Regions from separate parts of the Homo sapiens genome. Here region 2 is linked to region 1. Evidence: fine-mapped expression QTL. Tissue or cell type: tibial nerve. Region 1 holds a variant in brackets; the other region holds the start of a gene. All regions are shown on one strand. Distances are between the middles of the regions.

What was found. PIP is the estimated chance that this variant, and not a neighbour inherited with it, causes the effect.
Region 2: it holds the start of ASPG, and the variant in region 1 is fine-mapped to the expression of ASPG in tibial nerve (GTEx, PIP above 0.99).

Annotation. Positions count from the first base shown.
Region 1 is chr14:104,120,144-104,122,895 of GRCh38, reverse strand. No RefSeq gene overlaps it. Among named protein-coding and RNA genes, the nearest start is that of MIR203B, 4.0 kb to the right of the region's middle. The variant C/T (reference allele first, on the strand shown) is at 1,363.
Region 2 is chr14:104,084,362-104,087,113 of GRCh38, reverse strand. It overlaps ASPG (asparaginase), which reads right to left and starts at 1,414. Exons shown (of 16, transcript NM_001080464.3): 1 at 1,262-1,414. The coding sequence starts at 1,343.

The sequences.
Region 1 (2,752 bases):
AAAACTACAAAAATTAGCCAGGCATGGTGGCACACACCTGTAGTCCCAGCTACTTCAGGGGCTGAGGTGGAAGGATTGCTTGAGCCTGGCAGGTAGAAGTTGTGGTGAGTGGAGATCGTGCCACTGCACTCCAATGTGGGAAACAGACTCAGACTCGTCAAAAAAAGAAAGAAAAGAAAAGAAAAAGAAAGAAAAGAAGAAAGAAAGAAGGAAGGAAAGAAAGAAAGAAGGAAAGAAAGAAAGAGAGAGAGGGAGAGAGAGAAAGAAAGAAAGAAAGAAAGAAAGAAAGAAAGAAAGAAAGAAAGAAAGAAAGAAAGAGAAAGAAAGAAGGAGGGAGGGGAGGGGAGGGAAGAGAAGGTAAGGGAAGGGAATTCTAAATAATCCAAATGTCAAAGAAAAATTCAAAACGGGAATTAGCAAGTATCTTAAAGTGAATGAACCTGAAAGCACACTACATCTACATTTGTATAATGGAGCTAAAGCAGTGCTTAGACGGAAATTATAGCAATAAAATGACTACATTAGAAAAGATGAAAGGTCATCAGTGACCTCAGCTTCTACCTTAAGAAAAAGAAGTTGAGGAGGTGTTGGTCAAATGATTCAAAATTTCAGTTAGGAGGAATAGGTTCTAGAGATCTATTGTATAACATGGTAACTATAGTTAATAACAATGTATTGTACTTTTGAAAATTGCTAAGAAAGTGTTCTCACCACAAAAAAAGATAAGTAGGTAAAGTAATGCATATATTGATTAGCTTGATTTAGGCATTCCATAATTATATGTATATCAAAACAACATGTTGTACATGATAAATATATACAATTTTATATGTCAAATAAATAAAACATTTAAAAAAGAAACTAGAAAAAGGGAGCAAATAAAAGTCAAAGTCAGGAGAAGAAAGGAAATAATAAAGATCAGAGTGGAAATCATTGAGATAGAAAACAGAAAAACAATAGAGAAAATCAATAAAACCAAAAGCTGGTTCTTTCCCAAAATTGATAAAAATTATAAACCTCTATCCAGATGGATCAAGAAAAAAAGAGAAAACACATAATTAATATTAAGAATGAGAAATGGTTCATCACCACAGTCTACAGATATTCAAAGATAATAATGGAATAGTATGCATAACTTTATACCAATAAATTCAACATTAGATTAAATAAATCCTGTAAAAGAAACAATCACTAAAACTCACTCAAGAAGAAATAGATATGCTGAATGTTCCTATATCTAGGAAATAAGTTGAATTTGGAGTTCTTTCCAACAAAGAAAACTCCAGGGGTGGGAGGAGTTGGGGAAGTAAAGAGGGATCACCAAGGGCTGGATGAACCCTGCAGGTAGCTGTGTTTGGTCAA[C/T]GGTTTATCATCTTGACTGTGGTCATGGTTTCACAGATGTGCATATATATGTCAAGAGTCATCAAATTGTACACTGTAAACCTGTGCACTTTACTGTAGGTCAGTGGCATTTCAATAAACCCAAGAAAAATAGTGACACCCCCGACAAAGACTGGCGGGCTCAAGGCAACTCAGCTTGTATGTGTGCCCTCCCAGCACAACTTTGCTCCCCGGGCAGCCTCAGAACCACGGAAAGATACTCAGAAAGCCAGTCACAGTGACCCCACAGCCCTGTGACAGATGTGCTGTCCCATGGGGCTTATCTAGTCACCCAGGAAGGAGCCATCATCTGTCCTCCCTCTGATGATTCTCAACTGCAAATATGTTGCCATGGCTTGAGTGCTTGTGACCCTCCAAAATTCATGTTGAAACTTCATCCCCAGTGCAACAGGATGAAGAGCTGATGCCTTCAGCAGCTGAGGAGGCCATGAGTGCTCCACCCTCATGGGTAGGATTTGTGCCTTATAAAAGGGCATGAGGGGGCGAGTTTGCCCTTCCCATCCTTTCTGCTGTTCATCCCTTCTGTCGTGTGAGGACATGGTGTCCCTCCCCTCCAGAGCACCCACGCAAGGCACCAACTTGGAAGCAGAGACTGAGACCTCACAAGCTATTGAACCTGCCAGCACCTTGATCTTAGACTTCCAGCCTCCAGATCCGAAGAAATAAATTTCTCGTGGTTCCTTATAAATTATCCATCTCAGAGGTTTTGTTACAGCAGCACAAATGGCCTGAGACCTGCATATACAATTAGATTCCATGAGCCTCGAGTGGGCACCCCCAGACCCTGGCCTGGCAGGTTACCTGTTCAGCGGGCGCTATGGACTCCTCTGGGGAAGGACAGAGAGGCTAAGATGCAAATTCTACTCTAGGCTCCTGCTCCCAGGGAGTAGAGGCCAGGCACCACCCATAGCTGCAGATTCAGGACCTGTCTCCCCTTCCCCCAGCCTGTCTCTCTTCCTGAGGTCTCTCGCCTAAGACAGCTGCTGTCAGCCTTGGGCATTTATCAGGCTCGCCTGGGAACTTGGTGAAGACCCAGATCCCTGCCACCCATCCTACTCACTGAGCCTGGGCCTCTGCAGTGAGTCAGAACCCCTGCCTTCACATACTGGTTTAGCTACTTTAACAGAGACCAAAATAACACTGGCTTTAAAAGGCAGAAGGTTCCTTTCTCTTGTGGAAAAGACAAGCTGTTCAGCTGTCCAAGTGGGTAGGGCAGCGTGTACATGAGCTGGTCCCACGTAGGGTGATCAGCAGTCCCAGTTTGCCCCAGACTCAGAAGATTCCAAGAACGTTTCGGTGCCAAATCAGGAAACACGCAGGCACACCTGGACAGGTGGGTCGGCCTCATGCA
Region 2 (2,752 bases), 36 kb after region 1:
CCAGAGGGGTCTGCACCGGCCACAGTGTGGTGGGTGGAATCTGAGAGCACCGACAGAGTGCTGGTGGCTTCTGAGCAGCCACTTCAGCAGAAAGGGGTGGCCAGGAGGGGCAGCTGCCAGGGAACAGGCCGTGAGAGGGGGTGGGGATAGGAGGGGCGGGGAAGTGGTTGGCAGATGGGCAAGGGACAAGAGAATGTTCTGGTCATGCCAGGGGAGGCCCTGGGCTCTGGCAGAGCCGGAGAGGGTCCCAGCCGTCCCAGGAGAGAGAGCTGCGCTGGACACAAGCAGGAGTGTGGGGAGGGGCCAGGGCAGCAGGGAGTGGGAGGAGGAGGAGTGGAAAGGGCTCCTGAGGGAAAGGCAGGCAGTGGCCCATGGAGGGTCGCAAACAGGTTCAAGACGGGGCGAGGGGGCTGTCCTGGCCCCAAGGGAGGCCCCACATCACAGCAGAGCCCATCTGGGGGCCCCAGGCAGTGTCCTGCCCTCCTGGGGAACACCCAGGCATTCTGGAGGCTCCAGTGCAACCGTCCTCTCCCCATCCCGGTGGCCTCAGGCTCCCCAAGCTACCATCCTTCCTGTGCCCAGCCCAGGCTGGCAGCACTGTGCTGGAGTACCACAGAGCTCGGTGCCTGTCCCAGGCCCTGACCCCACCCAGGCAGAACTCAGTCCAGACGCAATCGCTGGTCTCTGGTCAACCAGGTCCACACAGGGGCAGAGGAAGCAGGGCTCTGAGGCCACCTCGGGTGTGAACACGTGCGTCCCCGCAGATGCCAGGTAGCCCCAGTATCGTGCCAACCACTGCTGCCTGACCAGGACCCCAGGGGACGGGGACACCCTCCTGGGTGTCGCAGTTGAGGGGTCCTCGCAGCCTCCTAAGCCTTCTCCAGGGCAGCCTCCTAAGCCTTCTGTGTCCAGAGCAGGAGCGGCAGGCCAATGCCCTGGGGCCCTCCCGCCCCATATTCCAGGACTTCAGGACGCTGGCCCTCAGGGGCGCAGCGGCAGCACAGGGGGCCTGGCCCCAGGGTCGCAGGGCGCTCCCGGGAGCACCGCGACGGCGAGAACCCACCGCAATCTCCTCTGTCCAGGTCGGGGCTCCATGCGTGGGGACGCCGGTGGCCGGAACCGGAGGAGAGCGACCTCAGCCCGCACCCCCCATCCAGGCGCGGATTTGACTCCCCAACGACCCCCGTGGGTGCAGGAGGGTCCGAGGCTCCCGGTCGCGGCCAGGTCCAGAGGCCTACCCCGCCCAGGGTCTCGGACTCACCGCCGAGCTCACTCCGCATGCCAATGGTGCCGCCGGTGTAGACGGCCAGCAGCCTCCGCTCGGGCCCCACCGCGCGCGCCATGCCGGACCGGGGACCACGGGAGTGGACGGGGGTGTGCAGCGGGGACGCAGGGCCTGCGGGACTCAGGGACTGCGCGGAGGAGGCCCGGGGCGCCGGGGGCAGCCTGGGAGGGCGGGGCCGGCGGGGGCACCCACGGGGAGGGGGCGGGAGTGGAGTCTGCCCGGGAGGGTGGGAGGCCCCGCGGAGGCGGGCGGGGGCAGGACCTGGGGGCGGGGTGGGTCCCGGGGACTGTCCAGGGTCGGAGAGAGAGGCGGGGCCTGGCGGGGTGGGGGCGGGGCCTGGCGGGGTGCGGGGCGGGGCCTGGCGGGGTGCGGGGCGGGGCCTGGCGGGGTGCGGGGCGGGGCCTGGCGGGGTGCGGGGCGGGGCGCGGCCTTGGAAACGTGTAGGAAGAGGTGAGGTCTGTGAGGGCGGCAGGGGGAGCTCCTGCCTGGGCAGGAGATTGGCTGGGGCCTGCTTGGGGCTGGGGAGCGCCTGTCCAGGGACTAGGGGGCAGCCAGAAAGGCAGCGACAGGGGTGGGGCGGGTCCTGAGCCATCCTGCGGCCATTGGCCCTCCGTGGCGGCCCTGGGTGTTTGAGTAGCTGTGACATGTGGTGCCTGGCAGACCGTAGTGCCCGAGGCCCTCCACGACCTGAGCACAGAGGGGGCTCCGTGTCCTGTCAAGCAGCCTCCACAGCCCCGGGGCTCCAAGGCCGGCATTGCTGCCCAGGCCCTGCTGTCCCTCCTTTGGATGGCCAGAGGCAGGCAGAGCTGGACCAGCCCCTCCACATGTGCCCATTCACACACCATCCAAGAGAAGAGCCCGAGGGGCCCCCAAGGGCTGGAGCGGGACAGAGCAGGAGTATGGCCTTCTTGGACAAACACCGCCATTTTAGGTTCCCTTTGATTAAAAAGCTGCCTAAATCCAGCCCAAAACACATCAGCCCAATAGCTAATGTCAGCACGACCGTAAACCACAAATAACATCTCCAATCAGAAACATGCCAACCTCGAGATAACCTCCCCTCCGACCAGAGACATTCCAAGCCCGCAATAAACTTTCCCTCACATAGAAACATTCCGAGCCTGCGATAAGCTCCCCACTTCCTAAACCCTTAAAGATCCTTAGTCTGTAGGAGAGATGGCTCCTGACCAAAATCGGCCAGAAGTCCCTTTCAGGTTTATTCTCCAAAATAAACCTGCCTTTGTTGAGCCGCTTTTCATGTTTCTTTCCTCTTTCTTTAACTCCTACAGAGCCCACCCTCCTTCACTCCCATGAGAGCCCAGGAGGGCAGGGCACTGGCGGGTGCAGGGTCCCAGGAGGGTCCCAAGCTGCAGGCTTGCTCCCAGGTGGACAGAAGATCCGCGGCCTCCTCGTCTCCTGGCACCTTGACTGCCTGGGGCACTGATGCACTTTGGTGGGAAACTGTGT